4 separate regions of the Homo sapiens genome follow, and all the other regions are linked to region 1. Evidence: fine-mapped expression QTL. A gene starts in region 1. Each other region holds a variant in brackets. All regions are shown on one strand. Distances are between the middles of the regions.

Region 1 (2,593 bases):
ACTCATGGCCTCAAGTGATCCTCCTGCCTGGGCTTCCTAAAGCGCTGGGATTACAAGCCTAAACCACCACTTGGGCAATATTTCATATTGAATGTTGAAAATTACCATGCAACTGTGCATATATCAGGTTAAAGAAAATACATGGTTAAAATCAAACCCACCTGTTTCTCTTCAGTTGTTTAATATGGCTACAAAAAACTTAAAAATATGCCGGACGCGGTGGCTCACGCCTGTAATCCCAGCACTTTGGGAGGCCGAGGCGGGCGGATCACGAGGTAAGCAGATCGAGACCATCCTGGCTAACACGGTGAAACCCCCGTCTCTACTAAAAATACAAAAAATTAGCCGGGAGTGGTGGCAGGCGCCTGTAGTCCCAGCTACTTGGGAGGCTGAGGCAGGAGAATGGCCTGAAACCGGGAGGCGGAGCTTGCAGTGAGCCGAGATCGCGCCACTGCACTCCAGCCTGGGCGACAGAGCGAGACTCCGTCTCAAAAAAAAAAAAAAAAAAAAAAAACGTAAAAATACGTATGTGGCTCACAATATGCTTCTGTTGGACAGTTTTCTGTTAGACCCTTCCTTTTTCCAGCTCTACAGTTCATCCTGAATACACCACTTGGAGTTTCCAACTGGGCCCTGTTTCTGTGCCGGAGACTTTGGAGACAGTAGTCCTGGTACCCGAAACACTTTTTCCCCTTCTCCTTGCTGAATGGACTGTTTTTATTCATTCAGATCTTAATTTTTAACTACAGCTTTCTCCAAGAAGCGTCCCTGATCCCACCACGTCCCCTGCAAGACGTTTTTAGGGCCTCCTATGAGATAGGAAAATCCACATACAGCACTTATTTTACTGTATTTGCAATTGCCTGTTTTCTGGTTTGTGTCCCAGACAAGACTGGAAGCTCCTTGAGGAGACAGATCCTCAGAACTGCTCCGTCTTCCACGCCCAGGCGTCAAAGCCCAGCACAAAGCGGTCTCTCCACTGAACAAGTGAGCGCTAGGGCACAGACCGTGAGCGAATGCGGGGGAGTACAAAGGTTCAAGGGTGAGGCGGTAGAGGGGGCTGAAGCAGAAACTACAAGGGAGCCAGAGAGGGGTGGGGGCCGCTGGCAGGACTCACCAGTCTCTGCTGGTCGACGTCGGCGTCTGGCCGTTTGGCCGAGGGCTGCAAGTACTCAGCGTAGCGCAAACTCTCGCCAACTGGAGCGATGACACCACGGGCAGCCATGGCAAGGCGGCCCGGAGACTCAAGGCGCCGCGGCAGTGACTACGAGGCGGCCGTAGGGACAAACTAGTTAGCGCGGTTTCTTCTCGCAGATCCAGTGGACTCTGCGCTCGTTGTGCTATTAAAGGCGAGGTTCCCGGAAGATACCCTTCTCACCCGAGCTGGGTAACGTGTCCCGTGCAAGCACGGGGTCACACTCCGAAAGGAGCCAAGGGCACTGGGACGTTCTTGAATCACACTCACAGGCGCAAAGCCAACGCGGACCCTCAGGGAGCTTTATATACTTGGGCCTGGTCCCTCCCCAGGCCGCCGTAAGGGACTGGGCTTAAGCCCTGCGAACTGATGTTGGTCGAATCAGATGACTGCCCAGTAAGCTCGGAGTCTAGCTGTAGTGCCTGAGGGTGGGCTTGCCTGAGCTTTCCTGACCCCCTTCCGGGCAGCCTTTCTTCCCACTCTCAACTTCTGTTCGCACTTCTGTTTAATGCCACAGTTCTACCACCCCGGGAGAGAAATTAAAGAGGCAATTTGCTTACTCCACCCCCAAGTAAATGGCTGTATTTAAGGTGAAATTACACAGAAGAAAGTTGTGGCCGGGTGCGGTGGCTCACGCTGTAATCCCAGCACTTTGGGAGACCGAGGCGGGTGGATCACACCAGCTTGGCCGACATGGTGAAACCTCGTCTCTACTAAAAATACAAAGATTAGCTGGGTGTGGTGGTGCGTCCCTGTAATCCCAGCTACTCAGGAGCCTGAGGCAGGGGAAAAAAAGTTGTGAGCAAGTAGGTAAATCTTACTCTCCCTCAAATGAGTTTGTGCTGATTTGTATATATAAAAGCCCATTTTATTATTAAGCTTTTTTTTTTTTTTGAGATGGAGTCTCGCTCTGTTGCCCAGGCTGAGTGCAGTGGCGCAATCTCTGGCTCACTGCACCCTCTGCCTCCCGAGTACCTGGGATTAAAGGCACGTGCCACCACACCTGGCTAATTTGTGTATTTTTAGTAGAGACGAGGTTTCACCATGTTGGCCAGGCTGGTCTCAAACTCCTGACCTCAGGTGATCCGCCCGCTTCAGCCTCCCAAAGTGCTGAGATTACAGGCGTGAGTCACCGCGCCTGGCCTCCATCAAGTTTTTAGAGCAAAAATTAACCAGCAGTTGAAGCGTATGGTGTTTTCCAACTTCTGTACCAACGTGGCAGCTCTTTGGCTCCTTATACCCTTTGCAAAATCAGCTGACAGGAAGAAAAAGCTTTATTTTTTTTCTATTCCTGAATTTAAAGTTTTGAGGGTCTATTAATTTGTTCACTTAGTTAATATTATTAGCATGTCTAAGAAGTTAGGTCCTAGAAATTTACAATCTTGTAGGGAAGATAAC
Region 2 (2,593 bases), 26 kb before region 1:
CTGTACTTCAGCTTGGTGACAGAGTGAGACCCTGTCTCAAAAAAACTAAAAAATTTTTTAAAATTTTAAAGGAAAGAATAAAAGTACTTATAAAGTTTCCTGTGGAAATAGTAAGGCTGTTAGATTTACAAGCAATTAAAACTGGCCGGGCAGAGTGGCTCATGCCTGTAATCCCAGCACTTTGGGAGGCTGAGGCAGGTGGATCACCTGAGGTCAGGAATTCGAGACCAGCCTGGCCAACATGACAAAACCCCGTCTCTACTAAAAATACAAAAAATTAGCCAGGTGTGTTGGCAGGTGCCTGTAGCCCCAGCTACTCAAAAGGCTGAGGCAGGAGAACTGCTTGAACCTGGGAAGTGGAAGTTGCAGTGTGCCGATTATCATGCCATTGCACTCCAGCCTGGGCCACAGAGCAAGACTCTGTCTCAAACAAATAAAATAAAACAAACAAACAAACAAAACTTTAACTGGCCCAGAATAATATGAATTGTTTCCTAGAAAAAAATTTATCTACTACCTAACATTTTTTTATTTGCTAAAAAGCCATTGGTATTTCTTTTCAGACACAGATTTTGTGAGCTGTAAAACAGTAACAATTCTCCTCAAACTTCCACATATATGAATGACTCAAACAGGAAAAAGAAACTAGTTTCAAATGTAGAAAACAGAAGTATAAGAGAAAGGGAGTCAATCTAAGTCTAAGTAAGTAACTCAACACAGAACTCCTGACCATACCTTTCTTTGGCTTTAATTTTAAAAATAAAATAACATCTAAAACACACTGGGGTTTCTGAATAACCTATGGTTTACTTGGCATAACTGTGTAAATATCAGATAATTCCATTAACATGTTCTCTATTTTACTATTGTTGAAAAACAATTAGCATGCTTTCATCACTATGCTATTTCTCGTTTACTAAACTTCAGTATCATATCCTTGGGCTAAGAGGATCTGTATTTTGTTTCTTTTATATGCACAACACCATATCTGATCCAGTTGTAAACATGAAGATGTATTTCGACTTTTATTTTGAATGTTTTTTAAACAATGATGCTTTAAAACTAAACTGCCAGTAACAGAATGAGAAAAAATGACATTGAAAAGACAATATAATAGTAAAATGGTGAATCAGGCATAGTGTTGGTACCACAACTACAGTCATTTTCTACCAACTAGGCAATAACCAGGTTAAATTCTGCAGAAACAGAAATGTTGCTGTTTCTTTGACTTAGGAAAAATTGGGATATGAAAATAAAAGAAATCAGGAAGTATGATTTAAAAAAGTAAGTATATTCCTGTACCCTAGTATAGGCTAAAACTGCCGTAAGTGTCACACATATGTAGCAGTAGATGATGAATATGGATGCCATATGAGGCTTTTTTTTTAATTCTTTAAAAAAAAATTCACAAGGCTGCCTTGGGCAAGTTTTAGTTTTGAAACATTTTATCTGACGATTCAGACGTTTATGGCTTAAAAAAGTAGCTAACATTTTCTAGGCCTGCAGAAAATCTAATTATTGGATATATTTTTGTTGTTGTTACACAAAATTAGGGTA[C/G]CACATACTTCTACTTATAGAACAAGCTGATCTTTCTATAAATATATGCACATATATACTTAAAAATGAAATCAGTTACAAATGCCACCAAAAAAATTCTTTTACAACTGGTCCAGCATAATGTTTGGGAACAGTGGTCTCTATGTAAGAAAAACCAAAAACCTAACATTCTACTTACATCAAATTTAGAAATTTAGTTTTTAATAATCTGTCATGGTCACCATGGGGGAAAAAAAGATGATATATATTCAAAAAACAAATTTATGTGATATGGGACAAGGGTATTTAAGCTTTTTGTTTTTTGTTTATTTTTGAGACAGAGTTTTGCTCTTGTTGCCCAAGCCAGAGCGCAATGGCGCAATCTCGGCTCACCACAACCTCCGCCTCCCGGGTTCAAACGATTCTCCTGCCTCAGCCTCCCCAGTAGCTGGGATTACAGGCATGAGCCACCATACCCGGGTAATTTTTTTTTTTTTTTTTGTATTTTTAGTAGAGACGAGGTTTCTCCATTTTGGTCAGGCTGGTCTTGAACTCCTGACCTCAGGTGATCCACCTGCCTTGGCCTCCCAAAGTGCTGGGATAATAGGCGTAAGCCAATGCACCCGGCCTAAGTTTTTAAAATTCATTACTTTAGAGTACACTTGTCAAAAATTACAAAAAGCATAGCTTTCACTGCATTCTCTCTGACCATATACAATGCATGAATATTTTGGATTTAAAAACTTCCAGGCATATGCATAATAGCACTGCAGAAAGCAACAGATGGCAAATTGTCAGTGAAATCGAATGGTTTCAAAATGGTGGCAGAGTTACCACAGAGAATCCTCATCCTAGACTGCTAGGTCTAGCTAAAGAAAAATCTTATGTTCTCACTAAATAGCATCATTACACAGTTATGGTTTCTGATGCCCGCTGGCCCTTCAAGCCTACTCTGTACCATCATCTTCCTCATCATTAATTAGTACCCTTTCCCATTCCTCATGGCTCGTACTAAACTTTTACTTTCTAAATAAGCCTTCAAGTTTTTCATCCATGC
Region 3 (2,593 bases), 97 kb before region 1:
ACTGTGTAATGAGACATAATCAAATAAAAAGTAAAGCACATAGGAGCATAATCACAAATGAATATAGCCAGTTGGACTTTGTATTAGGGCACTCCAGAGAAACAGAATCAATGGGAGGTGCAGATAGAAGGGGAGATCCATTTTAAGAGATTTGCTCAGGAGGTTATAGAGGCTGGAAAGTTGAAAATCTGCCAGGTGGGTCACCAGGCTGGAGACCCAGGGAAGAAGTCACGCTGCAGCTGAAGTCGGAAGGCTGTCTGCTGGCAGAATTCCTTCTTGCTTGGAGGAGGTCAGTATTTGTCCTATGAAAGTCTTTGACTGACTGGATAAGGCCCACCCACATTATGGCGGGCAATCTGCTTTACTTAAAGTCCTCCCATTAGAATGTTAATCTCATCCAAAAACACCCCACAGAAACATCCAGAATAATGTTTGACCAAACACCGGGGCATTACAGTGCCCAGCCAATTTGACAAATTAACCACCTGCTCAGGGGAACCTTGTTTCAGTCCCCACCTCTGCCCCACTGGTTTAGGGGATACCCTTCTCTGCTCCCAGGGCCCATAGAGTCTTCTTAGAGCCAAGGCTCACGGCCTATCCAGCTGCGTATCCCAGTGACTAGCATAGGGCCAGGCACATAGTAAGTGCTTAATTAATGCTTATTGAATGTACAAGAACTAAGAGATTGTAGGTGCTTAGTGATTTCACTGATAGCCCTTCTGTCATCTTCTTGAACTAGGAGGATGCAGGAGTCCTTAGTCTGTCCGCCAACATCTGGACTTAGCTCCACCCAGGAATATACATGGCAGCATGGAGACCACCCACCTGCTTTCCCACTTAACTGGCCATGTGATTCAAGGCAGCATACTTCACCAATCTGGCAAAGAGCAGGCACTCAACACACAACAGCTCTCATTCCATAAAACCAGGATTAGCCAGAGAAATGCCTGCAGGGAAAGTTGACCAGACAGTGTGTATTCTCACACACCCCCAGGAAAGTCTAGAGAATCTTTGGCCCAGGCTTAGCACAAAGCAAGACGTGACAATGTTGGGGAGGACAATCAGGGCACTGTTATTTGAATCACTAAAAAGTGCTGGACACATTTGATTCCATCACTAAATCATCACAACAACTTTCCAGGCAGGGAGGGCTTTTGAAAGTGTTTTGTGCCATGAGTCTATGGACCTCTCGTCAAATAATGTTTTCAACTGCGTATAAAAAAAATTATAAAGGAAACCAATTAATTCAAAATGCAGTTTTTATAAAATTAAAAAACATTTGTGATATCATGGTGTATGTGCCTCATTACTAATGCATTAAATATCTAGCGGCAAGTTTAAAAGCAACTGTAATTTTGAACTGGATGAATACAAATGATATTTGGAGTTATCTGTAACAACTGTAATGTAATATAGGGGCGCAGTGGCTCACGCCTGTAATCCCAGCACTTT[G/A]GGAGGCTGAGGTGGGCGAATCACAAGGTCAGGAGATCGAGACCATCCTGGCTAACACAGTGAAACCCCGTCTCTACTAAAAATACAAAAAATTAGCCAGGCGTGGTGGCGGGCACCTGTAGTCCCAGCTACTCGGGAGGCTGAGGCAGGAGAATGGCGTGAACCCGGGAGGCAGAGCTTGCAGTGAGCCGAAATTGTGCCGCTGCACTCCAGCCTGGGCGACAGAGCGAGACTCTGTCTCAAAAAAAAAAAAGAAAGAAATAGAAAAAGAAATATGTGTGGCTTGTTCTGGTGACAAAGTCACAGGCTGCTAACAAATGTTGCTGACATTCATAATAAAAGAAAATGCTAAATTTTAGTTAGAAATTTGTGAAAAACAAAAATGATTTTTTTTCCAATCCAAGTCCAAAGACCCCCCTCTATTTCATTCACAATTTCCTTGGACTCCATTATTAAGGTAAATCTTTGTATCCCCAATTTACAAATGAGGAAACACGAGTTCAGAGGAGTTAAGCAACCTTTCAAAGATCACACAGTAAGTGAAAGAGCCAGGGCTCAAACTCAAAAGTGCTGTTTGCCCCTAAAGTTTGCTCTATTTTCACTATACACAGCAGTGCTTCTCAATCATGCTCACTTGTGAATTTGTTAAAATGCGTATTCCTAGGCTCCACCACTCGAGATTCTGACTCAGCAGGTCTGTGGCAGGGTCTGAGATTCTGCATTTCTGACCAGCTCTCCGATGATGCTGCACTGCTGATCCTGGGACCACACTTGAACTTCCCAATAATGATTCGGGGAAACTCTATTCAAAATAATGAGTCTCCCAGTCCTTGACTTCTGAGCGGGTGAAAGAGACGATCACTTTGGACAGTTGCACTGAAAGTCAGAGAGCCTTCACAGTCAGATGTGCGGGTGCAGGCTGGTTCTCACCACCCCGTTTGGCTGTCTCCTTTCCCCTTTCCTTACCATCACTCTTTAAGCTGCCTGCTTTGATCATAATCTTTCTCCAGGCTGCCCTTTTTTTCTGTTTCGCTTGTATAAAAGTGCTGTGGCAGAAGAAAAGCCCTCAGAGTGATTTGCCCTCAGTTACGCCCTGGGGATGGTCCTGCCTGCAGCTCTTGGAGTGAGCTGAGAGGTCCAC
Region 4 (2,593 bases), 960 kb after region 1:
TGAAGGTTTTATCTCCTTAATCCTCAGAATATCCTTATGAACGTTTACATATGAGGAAAAGTAAGGTTTGAAGAGGTTATATAACTTGCCTAATAGGAACTCAAACTGGGACTCGTGTTCTTCAATGCATTTCAGGGTTTCATTTGTAAATTTAAAAAAAAAAATCCAAATCAGATTTATTTCTTTCTTTAGGATACTTTCTTTTTGTGTTCTAAGTAAAACGGTCTTTGTATTTTACTAAAGAGGGCCCCCAGCTGTGCATACATGAGCTAGAGATTTTCCCCAGCAAAACCTGTTATTAACGCATCTCTAATGCATATCTAAAATCATTAAAATTATACAGTTTCTTTTAGTACTCTTTCTTTTCTTTCTTTCCTTTTTTAAATTTGAATGATTAAAGTTTAATTCTTGGACTTAACCTCTGCCAACAGTCTTCTCTTCCTTCCTACCTCAGCTGCTCAGTCCCATGGTTACTCCCTAGGACCTGACTCGAGCCCTCACTCTTCATCCAACATCATTTCCAGAGCTTGTTACTGTATCCACCCACGCTTTTCCTGGCACACACAGACAAACCGCAACAGTGGTTTGACCCTGTCCTCCACTTCACTTACTGCACCCAAGCAGCTGAACATGATCCCACACCAGGCTGACAGCGCTTAGAGTCCTGGTCACCCGGCTCAGGTGTGCCCTAAATGCAACTTGATATTCACACTGCTGCATTTCTCTAGTCTATTCCCTTTCCCACGCCCCTGTTCAAGCATTTCATACCTTTCCTCTAGCCTCAGACCTCCATACCCTCTCCATCTTGATTCTCAGCTGACGACCTAACTTCATATTCCACTGGGAAAATCAAAATAATCAGAAAATAATTTCTAGAAGTGCCAACCTCTGCCCCTACTGCATTTTATGGATAAAGTGGCTTGTATGGATAAACTGACCTGCTCTGAGGGAAGCCCAGCTCCTCACGCCATCCCACCCCATCTCGCATATATAAGGACATTGCTCCAGTAATTCTCCTCTCTTTTTTTGCATCATTTAATCTTTTCTCTCAGCTAGATTATTCTCCTCAGCCCACAGTATATATATATATATATTTTTTTTTTCAGACGGAGTTTTGCTCTTGTTGCCCAGGCTGGAGTGCAATGGTGCGATCTCAGCTCACCACAACCTCCGCCTTCCAGGTTCAAGAGATTCTCTTGCCTCAGCCTCCCGACTAGCTGGGATTACATGCATGCGCCAACAAGCCCGGCTAATTTTGTATTTTTAATAGAGACGGGGTTTCTCCATGTTGGTCAGGCTGGTCTCGAACTCCTGACCTCAGGTGACCCACCC[G/A]CCTCAGCTTCCCAAAGCGCTGGGATGACAGGCGTGAGCCACCACATCCGGCCAGCCCACAGTCTTTCTCCTAAAAAAGTCATTTCACTTTTTTAAAAAAGCTGTAGCTTGACCCCAGCATCCCTCTCCAGCCACTGCTTCATTTTTTCCCTCCTCTCGTTTAAAGGGTTTGTTTTAGATGCTGATTTTAAAGATCAAACTTGCTAATGGATCGGCAATAGTATTCTTTTAATATTAATATGGTAACTAGCATCTATTAAGTGCTAATTATGTGCTAACCACTGTGCTAAACTGTCAAGGAAATTGTCACAGCAACCTCTCTACTGCTCCCCTGATGTCTGACTTTTTTTCCTGCTACTCACTTTCCCCTCACTCCCTTCCCACCAGCTGGAATGTGTCAGCTGTTCGGGAATGCTCATCCCTGGAATGTGTCAGGTGTGTCTCTTCCTCAAAACCTTTGCATTTGCTGTTCTTTCAGCTTGCTCTGCTCTTCCTCCAGATATCCTCATGGCACTCTCTTCAAAAAAAAAAATAGGTCCAGATACATTGCCCTAGCAGGATTTTCAAGTGTTCCCAAGACCTTTTTCAAAGGTCCATGAAGTCAACACTATTTTCACAATAATCCTAAAATACACACAGCTTTTAATATTCTGCAATGCACTCATAAAGCTCCAAAGAACATTTTTTAAACCTGAATGTAGAATCATTTTACCAGTTTTTATGAGAGCCACCAAGAAATACCAGATTTTTCTTCCCATAATAGCTAAGAACATATCACTCCATCCCCTTGTATCAACTACAAGTGAACAGATAAATAAAAACGCAGATAACCTGAGATTCTACACTTTGAAAGTATTTCAGCAGATACCTGGTTTAACCCGAGAACTGTTTCAAGTACATGCCATTTATTCAATCTTCAAAAATAATTTGGATTTTATGCCTGAAGTTGGCCGTAACTAAAACTGCCTTAATTACATCTCCTACAGAACTACTGTCACACAAAGTTGAAGTCTGGATTATGTCCTGACCTCACAAGGGAGGACATCATAAGGACACCTCCCAAGTGGATGTAGGTGAGGGGAACATATTGCAGACCTCACTCCCACCCACATCAAAGACTGATAGAACATATTTCTTTGGTTCCCCCAAGGAAAGCTAGAAAAGCTTTTCCCCCTTAAAATCTAGAGGGCTTTTTTCCCGCTGGTAATACGACTTTATAACTGGTCTTGCTGCTCTGGCTACCCGGGATCAAATTTACAAC

The links. PIP is the estimated chance that this variant, and not a neighbour inherited with it, causes the effect. A credible set is the group of variants that fine-mapping cannot tell apart.
Region 2: its variant is the best candidate, but not a certain one, in a credible set for the expression of DNAJC15 in whole blood (INTERVAL, PIP 0.63).
Region 3: its variant is the best candidate, but not a certain one, in a credible set for the expression of DNAJC15 in subcutaneous fat (FUSION, PIP 0.57).
Region 4: its variant is the best candidate, but not a certain one, in a credible set for the expression of DNAJC15 in uterus (GTEx, PIP 0.79).

The regions. Positions count from the first base shown.
Region 1 is chr13:43,022,259-43,024,851 of GRCh38, reverse strand. DNAJC15 (DnaJ heat shock protein family (Hsp40) member C15) reads right to left here and starts at 1,266. Exons shown (of 6, transcript NM_013238.3): 1 at 1,118-1,266. The coding sequence starts at 1,225. RefSeq lists enhancers at 768-817, 1,328-1,377, 1,388-1,447.
Region 2 is chr13:43,047,770-43,050,362 of GRCh38, reverse strand. The region is part of intron 1 of DNAJC15 (DnaJ heat shock protein family (Hsp40) member C15); the gene reads right to left. Among named protein-coding and RNA genes, the nearest start is that of DNAJC15, 25 kb to the right of the region's middle. The variant C/G (reference allele first, on the strand shown) is at 1,558.
Region 3 is chr13:43,119,455-43,122,047 of GRCh38, reverse strand. The region is part of intron 1 of LINC00400 (long intergenic non-protein coding RNA 400); the gene reads right to left. Among named protein-coding and RNA genes, the nearest start is that of LINC00400, 7.6 kb to the right of the region's middle. RefSeq lists an enhancer at 2,130-2,593. The variant G/A (reference allele first, on the strand shown) is at 1,453.
Region 4 is chr13:42,062,450-42,065,042 of GRCh38, reverse strand. All of the region lies in intron 1 of DGKH (diacylglycerol kinase eta), which reads right to left. Among named protein-coding and RNA genes, the nearest start is that of DGKH, 15 kb to the right of the region's middle. The variant G/A (reference allele first, on the strand shown) is at 1,333.